2 separate regions of the Homo sapiens genome follow, and region 1 is linked to region 2. The links come from fine-mapping of genetic effects on gene expression. A gene starts in region 2. The other region holds a variant in brackets. All regions are shown on one strand. Distances are from middle to middle.

Region 1 (5,376 bases), 350 kb before region 2:
CCCTCAGCAGCCTCATCTGCAAAATGGGCATAAAAACAATATATTGCCCAACAAACCTTATAGGGTTATTGTAAGCAAGTATGACAGTTTGTAAATAACAGAGATATTAAAATTAGTGTATGAGTATCAACACCAGTCTAACTAAGAAGGACAGACAGGATAAATTTGAGTGGAGAGGGCACACCTGCAGGGAGGTCCTGAATGCTGCAGATGTCGCCTATGCAGGGAAGCCTCACTCCGGGCACCCATCTGGCCAGCATTGCTCACACACTTCTGTCTCACTGCATTTGCTGTCTTGGCAAATATTTTTCTGCCTCATGAATTCCTGAGAAAAGCAAGATGTCTACTTTACTTAAAAAGGGGAGTAGGGGGAAAAGAAAACCCTGTAATCCCAGTGACCCAGGAGGCTGAGGTGGAAAGATCACTTGAGGACAGGAGTTCAAGTCTAACCTGGCAACATAGCAAGACCCCCATCTCTATAAAAAATTAAAAAATTAGCCTGGCATGGTGACATGCACCTATAATCCTAGCACTTGGAAGGCTGAGGCAGGAGGATCACTTGAGCTCAGGAGTAAAATGCTGCAATGAGCCATGATCATACCACTGTACTCCAGCCTGTGGGACAGAGGGAAACCCCATCTCTAAAAAAGAGAGAAAAGTCCTTACCAAAAAAAAGAGGGGGAAAATCAGAATTTCCTAGAAAAATGCAAAGCTCTCCTCTTTCTCCAGATGATGTCTAATGCTCTCAGTCCCATAAAGCCATTGTCTTGGCAAACCAGTCAGGTAGAAGGCAAAGACAGAGGAGAGAGAAAGACAAAGCCCAGAAGTGGAGATTAAAGAACAACAATCTTCACGAATGGAAAAGCAGCTTGGAGACTGCTGATATGCTGCAGGGATATTCTCTGCAGTCTGTGCGTGACTCCAGTTTGGTGGCTGCCTCGCACTACCCCCGGGGCAAGAGCATTAATGGGACCCCTCCCACACAGCTGCTTCCACGCAACCCTCTTTGAGAATCTCTACCAGGATCCTAGATTCAGGATCAGTTTTCCAATTCAGGCCTTGCTGTTTCACTGTCTCCTCACTCTAATAAGATATGTTTCTGAGGGAAAAGAGGAACTATTGATTTTTTTTTCCCATTCAGTTGTGAGCTGGTGAATTACATTATTTCAAATCTCACTTGCAAGGAGGACTGACATCAGCAGGGACTGCATGTTGTGGACTGAGCACAGGTGTGATGAGGATGCCTGCAGCACCCTGCATAATCAGTGCCCCCCGCCAGGGAGCCCTGGGCAGTTTAGCTAGTGGCTGGGGGCATGGATACTGCAGAAGGCCTGGCTCCTCTCCACCCGCGAGCCTCCCCAGCCCAGCCCTGCCGCGAGGCTCCCAGACTCTCCAACCAAGGCCCAGCCAGCCCTCCTGTAACCAGGGGTTGAGTTTGTTTCACACTTTGTGCCAATGGTTTGCAAAAGATGTGACATGTTTCTTCCAAATGCACAACAAGCGACAATTCATCCATGAGCTGCCAGAACACATTTCACATGAAGCATGAAAAATCCGAGGAGCTGAGGAATGAAGAACTCAACCCCAGATGAATACAAGCCAGTCAAGCATTTCTAAAGAATGTTAGAAAGCATCCTAGGCAGCCCTCCACGTCATCACTGTGATTATTACTATAATTATTCCTCCCTCACTTTGCCGTTAGCCATATGCATGCTACATGAGGTCACAGGCTGCCCTCCCCTGGTTTTCCAGACACATAAAACCAACAAGAAGCCAGGGGAGGCTGAGCTAATGGTGCTAGACAGAGAGGAGCTGCAAATCACCATTCTCCTCAATTTACGCCAAATAAATAGATGGAACCTCATGCCCACATGGAGGGATGTGATCCACAGAAAATCTTGGACACTGTCACCTCCTCCCTGTGTCCCCCATCTTTTCCCTCTCCTCCCTCCCCCACCCCCACATCACAATCCCATTACAGAGAATGGGAATGCAGTCAGCAGGGGGTAGAACAAGAACCATGGGTTTCGTGTGGGAGAAGAACCAAGCTCACTGGGTAAAAGTGGTTCTTCTAAGACCCTCACATCAAAGGAAGACTTGCAGGAGAAAACAAGGCACTTGTTTTAAAGCAGGGGGGTTGAAATCCCAGGGATGAGAGAAATTCAAATGAACATATCTTTTAAGTGGTTCCTGTCCTTTCATGCACCCCTGCTCTGTCAGCTTCCATACTGTGGAGCTCCTCATTCTCCAGTGCTTAAAAAGGGTTCTCCTTTTGTTCACTGGAAGAAAACCATTTTTGTTGGCTCTACTCAAAAAGTGTCTATGATGTCTCTGGGATGGTAACACTTCATCTCCTCCTGCTAAGTTATTTGATCCAGAACACAGACATTGGAAAATTCAAATGGCTTCTTTGATTTCTGTTATCACACCCAAACC[G/T]AAAATCACTGGGTGTCCTTGACCCCAGCACATGCCCTCTACTTCCAGCCCATCTCTGACATTGGCCAGGGGGTTCCCAACAAGCCACAGTCAGAAACGATGGCCTCCATGTAAGCACGTAAGTCTCCACCAGTGATACATCCAGAAATGTCACATGCTATTAGGAAGTTTCTTTTCAAGTTGTTGGGTCGTTGTCCACGAAACAAAGCATATTGCAATTGCATGTTAGAAAGTTGAGTAAATTACAAACAGACAGCACCCTGAGTTTGTATCTGGCCTCTATGAAAATCCTTATAGATGATGATAACAGTCGTGATGTTGAGTGATCTGTTTCTCTAGGTTTTGTAACAATACTAGTCTCTGCAACTTCTCTTTATAAGACTTCAAGGTTTTCCTGTTTCACAATTTGTCTGGCTCTCTCCATCTGGCCTAAGAAGAGCCTATTCTCATGAACAATGAAGGCAGCTATTGATGTATGTAAGATGGGTTCATTTGGCTAAATATACCTACTGGATATTATCCCTAAGTCAGCATTTTCTAAAAGACAACCAATACTTCATAGCAAAAATTAGGTTAACAGGATCATGTCCAATTAGTTAAAAATACTAGACCAAGCAATCTCTCTGACCTGTTGAGCCAGCTGGTTCTACACTGGTTTCTTTCAAATGCTTCACTTCTGCAGATCCATGCTGCAGCCCATCAGCTTGGAAAAGACATATCTTCCTTCTCAAATGGAAAGCCCAAATATTGATGACGGGTTTCTCTAGTTGATGGTTACGGCAGGGAGCAGTCTGATGCCTCACCTCCCTACGGTGGAAGAAAGGAAGCTGACCAATCAAAGTGTGCACCTACACAGCCCACACTGCCCTCCAGATGCGGCGATACCTCCCTGCACCTCAAAGTAAATTAGACTGATGCCAAGGATCACCTCTTGAGAATCACCCAGATAATGAGGATGTCTCAGGGTGGCCACACTCCAGCCACACAAAACTCCAGCCAGTGCTGATGGCCTCTGCTCACCATGAGTGTTCCATGCTGCAGGCACCTGTATAACTTCCTTATCGCAGGAGAAAAAGGTCATGTTATTAACTAGTCATTAGATTGTCCAGGTTTTTTGTACCTTTTAACTGCTCTGGTTTATTCCTACCCTCCCATGAAACTCTTCGTCCTTACATTCCTTTTTTTTTTCTTTGAGTCAGGGTCTTGCTCTGTTGCCCTGGCTGGACTGCAGTGGCACAATCATAGTTCACTGTAATCTCGAACTCCAGGGCTTGAGCAACCTTCCTGCCTCAGCCTCCCGAGTAGCTAGGACTACAAGTACACTCAATCATGCCTGGCTAATTTTTTTTATTTTTATTTTTTTATTTTTGTAGAGATTAGGTGTCAAATTCCTGGACTCAAGCATTCTTCCCGCCTTGGCCTCCCAAAGTGCTGGGATTATAGGTGTGAGCCACTGTTCCCAGCCTCATCCTTACATTCCCAAGATCTCCTCCTACATGAAGCCTTCATGGTTTCTGAAAGTCCTTGAGATACCCAGGTTTTCCTATAGTCACCTCAGCACAAAAACGTGGCAGCCTGTTCTTGACCTGACCTCTGTAATCTCAGTGGGAATGTTCGGATTGGGGATGGTGGATTCTCCCAGAGGACCCCACAGACAGCAGTGCCCCATGTTCAAGATCATCCTCATATATAATTTCCCTAACAGCATCATAAAATCAGAGAGCCACAACTTTTGAAATGCCTTTCAAGAACCTATCCAATTGGCTGGGCGCAGTGGCTCACGCCTGTAATCTCAGCACTTTGGGAGGCCAAGGAGGGCAGATCATGAGGTCAGGAAATTAAGACCATCCTGGCTAACATGGTGAAACCCTGTCTCTACTAAAAATACAAAAAATTAGCTGGGTGTGCTGGCACAAGCCTGTAGTCCCAGCTACTCAGGAGGCTGAGGCAGGAAAATCGCTTGAACCTGGGAGGCGGAGGTTGCAGTGAGCCGAGATCGCACCACTGCACTCCAGCCTGGGTGACAGAGAGAGACTCTATCTCAAAACATACAAACAAACAAACAAACAAATAAAAACCTATCAAAGCACTAGATTACTCAGTAAAAGTCACACATTCATGCCTTCTCTGTGACTCATCCTGATTAAAAGGCAAACCAGAGGATACAGGTAGAAAACCAGACCAAGTCCTGGGCTCAGTTCTATCAGCCAACCACACTGTGGAGCTCCTAGTTTTAGATGAGGAAAGAGAATTAGTCATAGAAATAGCTTCCTTGGCTCTCTGGAAGGAAACCATCTTTTATTGATTCAGGCCCAAAGACAGCCATAGTTGTACACAAGATGGTCTCTTACTAGCTACATCATCAGGGAAACTTTCTGAGTTTTTGATTCCTCAGTTGCAAAATGAGAACATAACAGCCTACCCACCACACCAAGGCAATAGCTGAAGAATGGTTCTGAAAGTGCAGGTGGGAGAGAACAAGCTGTATTCAAGGGACCCGTTTCATTTGGATGAAAACCGGCAACAATCCAAATCTCTTCCCCCTCTCCATGGGCATGAGCCATGGAGAGTTCTGCCTGGAAATATTCGGGATAGAAGGGGAATGGGAGGAGATCTTAAGTAACTCCCTAGAATAGCATGTGCCGCTTGCTTTTATAGGCTGGATAGGATGTGATACATGTGGAAGACAGAACAGTCGTTCACTAAATACAGTAAGATATATTTGGACGGGTAGTTTGAAGGCCTTCAGAAGACTGAAATTTCCATTGTAAAGACGACGACTGGAAGCACAATAAAGTGCTTAGTACCATCCAGGCTCTGCTGAGAGTTTTCTATGTACTACCTCGGTTCATCCATGTGATAGCTCTATAAGGTAGAAATTATTATCAACACCCCTTTCCTCAAATCGGCCAATAATGAGTTGAGTGAGGAGTTAACCTT
Region 2 (5,376 bases):
CCTGTTGTATTCATTAAAGTGTTGCAAGTGTTCTATTTGATGGATTAAGTATATTTAGGATATACATGTTCAATTTGTGATTTTGTATACTTAATTGGAACAAGAAAGCTAATAAAGGTTTTGATATGGACATCTATTCTTTTAAGTAAACTTCAATGAAAATATATGAGTAGAGCATATAGAGATGTAAATAATTTGTGGACACACCACAGACTGAAATAGCAAATTTAAAAGAAATTGTTGGAAGAATCAAGTGTTTGTGGAATGAGTCCTCCTAGTAAAGTTCCTGCTCTTGTGAATAATTAAGCCTCATGTATAATTACTATAGCAAAAGGAAGCCTAAGAAGTATTAGACTCTACTTGTATTTAAATTACATTTTACATAATTTATGTGTATGAAAAATGTTTTAAATGCTTATTTTCGTAAGCCATGAGATAGCTCCTTTATATTTTAAGAATTTCTGAATTAATTTGCTTGGATTTTATTAGTGCAAATGGCAGAGCTAGCAATTCCTTTTTCTGTGTTCCCATTCCATCCTATTCATCCCTCTTTTAGGAAACTCTGAACTCTGGATTGTCCTTGTTTACATACCTGCCTCCTGCATTGGACTATGTGTCTCTGAGTGTAGTATGACTAATTCATTTGTTTGTCAAGGACTCTCAATGCATTTGTTGAACAGCCTAATTAGTAATGTCTGCAACAATGACATTTTACTGTATTTAATAAAGCTCTGGGAAAGTAGGATACACATAAGACAGGTCTAGGTCTAAATTCTTTACAGAAACTTGGATTTTTAGTTCGGTTTGAAATTTGAAGATGTGAGTATATTTATCTCAGTTTCCCAAAGGACAAGCTAATTGGAATTATCATCCTCTTTCACTTGATTGGATCCCCAGAATGCCATTTACGCATGCAGCAGGATTTTATAACAGTTTTAAATTCTGTATATTTGATGAAGAGGTTTTATATTTTTGGATTCAAGCCTCTTTTTAAACTTCTACAATATGGTTTACAATAATTCCTTATATCCTGCTTTTGAAATACATATTACAACTTTTTAAGTTTGGAAGGCTATATTTCAAGGACTGAAGTTACAGTATACTCAAGTGATACACAAGCCTAGCACCCCACTTTCCACATAGTGTTCGATAAAGATTGATAAACTCGAAATCACAGACCTTTTAATTCTTAAGACAAATAGCAGCAGAAAGAAACATCTTTGGCTTATTTCTGGTAAGGTTTTTATGCTCTGTAAAACAAAGAATTGTATTCATCCGCGCAGCACAGATTCTATTAAAAATAAATGTGAGAGTCGTTAATGTAGTACTGCTCATTTACCATCAAAATTCACTTTTCAGGAATAATCCCATCAGTTTAAATTGGATATTGGAATGAGCATTGATTACATTTAACTTGGTAGCCCAAAATTTCTTCATGGGGTTTTGAACTCGGCGGGATTTCAAAGGTTTTAAAAATGAGTTTTTGATTTTTTTTAAAACCCTCAAATTTCATTACCTTTAAACTAGGTCGAAACGGGGCGCAAGAGATTGGATTAACACCATAGTAATACTTATTTTGTTCTTAACCATTTCAGGGCTTCTTGAAATAGAGGCTGTATGGTGTAATGGAAAAAACAGCCTTGGAATCTGGGAGCCTGATTCCTGGATTCAGTCCCAGTTTTGCGTGACCTTGGGCAAGTTACTTTACTTCTCTGAATTTCCGTTTCCTCCTCTGCAAAATGAGGATCGCAATAGCCACCTTGCAACCTTGACTGGAGCGAGCCTCGCACACCCCGCGCCGGCCTGGAGGAAGAGCAGCCATGATTACGCCGCCTTCGCTCCGCTACCCGCTTGCGGCTGGCGCCCTCCTCCAGCAGGTGTAGGCGCTGCCGCGCTGCCCCACGCCTTTCCGCCGCTCGCGGGCCTGCGCCTCGGCGTCCCCGAGGAGGCCGCTGCGGGCTGAGGTAGCGCACCGGCCTCTCGGCGTCCCAGTCCGGTCCCGGGCGGAGGGAAAGCGGGCGACCCACCTCCGAGGCAGAAGCCGAGGCCCGGCCCCGCCGAGTGCGGAGGAGCGCAGGCAGCCCCCGCCCCTCGGCCCTCCCCCCGGCCCTCCCGGCCCTCCCTCCGCCCCCTCCGCCCTCGCGCGCCGCCCGCCCGGGTCGCCGCGGGGCCGTGGTGTACGTGCAGAGCGCGCAGAGCGAGTGGCGCCCGTATGCCCTGCGCTCCTCCACAGCCTGGGCCGGGCCGCCCGGGACGCTGAGGCGGCGGCGGCGGCCGAGGGGGCCGGTCTTGCGCTCCCCAGGCCCGCGCGCCTGAGCCCAGGTTGCCATTCGCCGCACAGGCCCTATTCTCTCAGCCCTCGGCGGCGATGAGGCGCTGAGGCGGCTGCCGGCGCTGCGCCGGAGCTTAGGACTCGGAAGCGGCCGGGCCGAGGGCGTGGGGTGCCGGCCTCCCTGAGGCGAGGGTAGCGGGTGCATGGCGCAGTAACGGCCCCTATCTCTCTCCCCGCTCCCCAGCCTCGGGCGAGGCCGTCCGGCCGCTACCCCTCCTGCTCGGCCGCCGCAGTCGCCGTCGCCGCCGCCGCCGCCGCCATGGCCAATGACAGCGGCGGGCCCGGCGGGCCGAGCCCGAGCGAGCGAGACCGGCAGTACTGCGAGCTGTGCGGGAAGATGGAGAACCTGCTGCGCTGCAGCCGCTGCCGCAGCTCCTTCTACTGCTGCAAGGAGCACCAGCGTCAGGACTGGAAGAAGCACAAGCTCGTGTGCCAGGGCAGCGAGGGCGCCCTCGGCCACGGAGTGGGCCCACACCAGCATTCCGGCCCCGCGCCGCCGGCTGCAGTGCCGCCGCCCAGGGCCGGGGCCCGGGAGCCCAGGAAGGCAGCGGCGCGCCGGGACAACGCCTCCGGGGACGCGGCCAAGGGAAAAGTAAAGGCCAAGCCCCCGGCCGACCCAGCGGCGGCCGCGTCGCCGTGTCGTGCGGCCGCCGGCGGCCAGGGCTCGGCGGTGGCTGCCGAAGCCGAGCCCGGCAAGGAGGAGCCGCCGGCCCGCTCATCGCTGTTCCAGGAGAAGGCGAACCTGTACCCCCCAAGCAACACGCCCGGGGATGCGCTGAGCCCCGGCGGCGGCCTGCGGCCCAACGGGCAGACGAAGCCCCTGCCGGCGCTGAAGCTGGCGCTCGAGTACATCGTGCCGTGCATGAACAAGCACGGCATCTGTGTGGTGGACGACTTCCTCGGCAAGGAGACCGGACAGCAGATCGGCGACGAGGTGCGCGCCCTGCACGACACCGGGAAGTTCACGGACGGGCAGCTGGTCAGCCAGAAGAGTGACTCGTCCAAGGACATCCGAGGCGATAAGATCACCTGGATCGAGGGCAAGGAGCCCGGCTGCGAAACCATTGGGCTGCTCATGAGCAGCATGGACGACCTGATACGCCACTGTAACGGGAAGCTGGGCAGCTACAAAATCAATGGCCGGACGAAAGTAAGTGTGTGCTGCGGGTTTGTGCTGGACAGGCCCTTCTCGGCGGGCAGCCCCTGCCTGCGACTGAAACTGCCTAGGCTGAGAAGCAGCATTCCTCTATATAGAAGGGACTCGCTCTTTCTTGTGTAGCTCCCCGTAAGGAAGACGGACAGAATTTGTAGTAGCTGTTTATCTAGTTAGCCCCTTTGTATCCACTGTTTTCCACTTACTGCCCGTTCACAAACTTCTCCGGCTAATTGCATGGTTTTTTGACTCAACGTAGGCGCTTTAACTTTCCTATTTTCTTTTTTCCATTCCACTATTGGTCACAATTCAAACCTTAGTGGCGTTTTAGCCACCCAGTGAAGGGGTGTTAGAGTACCACCCAAAGCAAGTCCTGGTTCTGCATCTGCCTTGTGTTTGCATAAGCTGTTAAATTTCCTATGGTGTCTGAACCACTCATCACATTTCGATTGAGAGTCAAACGCTGTGTTCAGTTAGGAATTTGCCGGCTGACCGCAAAAAGGTACATTTAAAATAAGCATTTAGTCGAAAGACTCTGTATTCAGGAAGAGCTTGGCTACTCCCCTCCCCCTGTTATAGCTCTTATCCCTCACCCTGTTCCTACTGTTTTGAAACCCGTTACAAAAAGGGGAAAGAAGTATTTCCGTCTTCAGGCCTCTCAGTGTAGGTAGGCTACATTTTTAGCACCAGTTTCCTTTATTTGCTTTGTTAATGTAATCCTTCTGTTGAAAACTGTTTTGTAACTTCCTGGAAAACAAAACAAAACAAAACAACAACACGGAATTGGCGCAGGAGGGCTCGTTTTATCCTCCCAATTTGGTGAGATCTTTTTGTTTTCTCTTTACTATTGCGGTTTTTCCTCCACAGATTTCTTCACTTCTTACCTAGTCTATTCCCTCTTTCCTCCCTCATGATAAACAGTAGACTCTTTCGTCCTTAACCAACTCTCTTGCAGCTCTTTTTCATTTTACTTCTCAGATCTTGATCTTTTCTTTGTGGCTGCTCCCAGGCCACCCTCCTCCACCATCAGTCTCTGATTTTGTGGGTTTTGAGAGATTGACCTGGGAGAGCATCACAGTTGCATGTTTGTACACACACGCTGACTCTAACTAGTGGTTTTTCTGTATGTGTGTGTCAGATCATCTACTTTGACAGTCATTACATGTGATTCTCAGGCTGCCCGAAAGACTGAACATAGGCAGTGAGAAAGTTATAAACGTGAACATTTTGTGGGGAAAAATACAATGTGGAGTCTAATTTACCTATTGCCACTTCATTGCTGGATGAAGGCACAAGTCTTAATTTCTTGTAGTCTTAAAAAGGAACAGTTGAATAATATTAAACTGGAAGGAAAAGGGGGATCTGATGAAATTTCAGCGTTGGTCTTTCACTAGATTTTCATTGATAAAATTTTTAAGAAAGTTGTCAGGGCACAACTTTAAGAAATTGTCACATCTGAACATAAAGTCCTGAGCTCCAGAGCAGGAAAGAAATTAGTTTGAGACAATAGGGCTGTGAAGACTGACCAAAGTATATAGTTGGGACATAAGCTTAAATTGGATTCTTGAAGAAGATGATGTCCCAAATCTTTCTTGATCTGCTTTCCTTAGTTAATTTAGCTTTCCAAGTTAAGCTGAGACCTCTTTTCTCTTTTGTCTTCCTGCTTTCACCTGTCCTTAGAGAAGGGACAGCAGACAGCCTGGCTCTTAGAGCAAATGCTTCTCATAGAGATGCTATTAGGAAATAGGTACCTCCTTCCTCAAGAGTTCTAGTTGTTGGGGTTTTAAGTCACGTAACTGTACATATTAGCAGGTAATAAGGGACAGGATGAAGGAGGGATGACCTTTAAACTCTTTGGATTTGATCTGCTTATATTAATTTTAGGGACGCA

Which allele goes with the higher level. Alleles are on the strand shown, and positions count from the first base shown. SD is a standard deviation of normalised expression in the study named.
As copies of G replace T in region 1, the expression in prostate of the gene that starts at base 2,193 in region 2 goes down (small effect, 0.30 SD a copy in GTEx).

Evidence for each region.
Region 1: its variant is fine-mapped to the expression of EGLN1 in prostate (GTEx, PIP above 0.99).

The regions. Positions count from the first base shown.
Region 1 is chr1:231,772,506-231,777,881 of GRCh38, reverse strand. All of the region lies in intron 6 of DISC1 (DISC1 scaffold protein), which reads right to left. All of the region lies in intron 10 of TSNAX-DISC1 (TSNAX-DISC1 readthrough (NMD candidate)), which reads right to left. Among named protein-coding and RNA genes, the nearest start is that of DISC2, 43 kb to the left of the region's middle. The variant G/T (reference allele first, on the strand shown) is at 2,437.
Region 2 is chr1:231,419,104-231,424,479 of GRCh38, reverse strand. It overlaps EGLN1 (egl-9 family hypoxia inducible factor 1), which reads left to right and starts at 2,193. Exons shown (of 5, transcript NM_022051.3): 1 at 2,193-3,482. The coding sequence starts at 2,592. RefSeq lists silencers at 1,728-2,052, 1,808-2,987 and an enhancer at 3,368-3,637.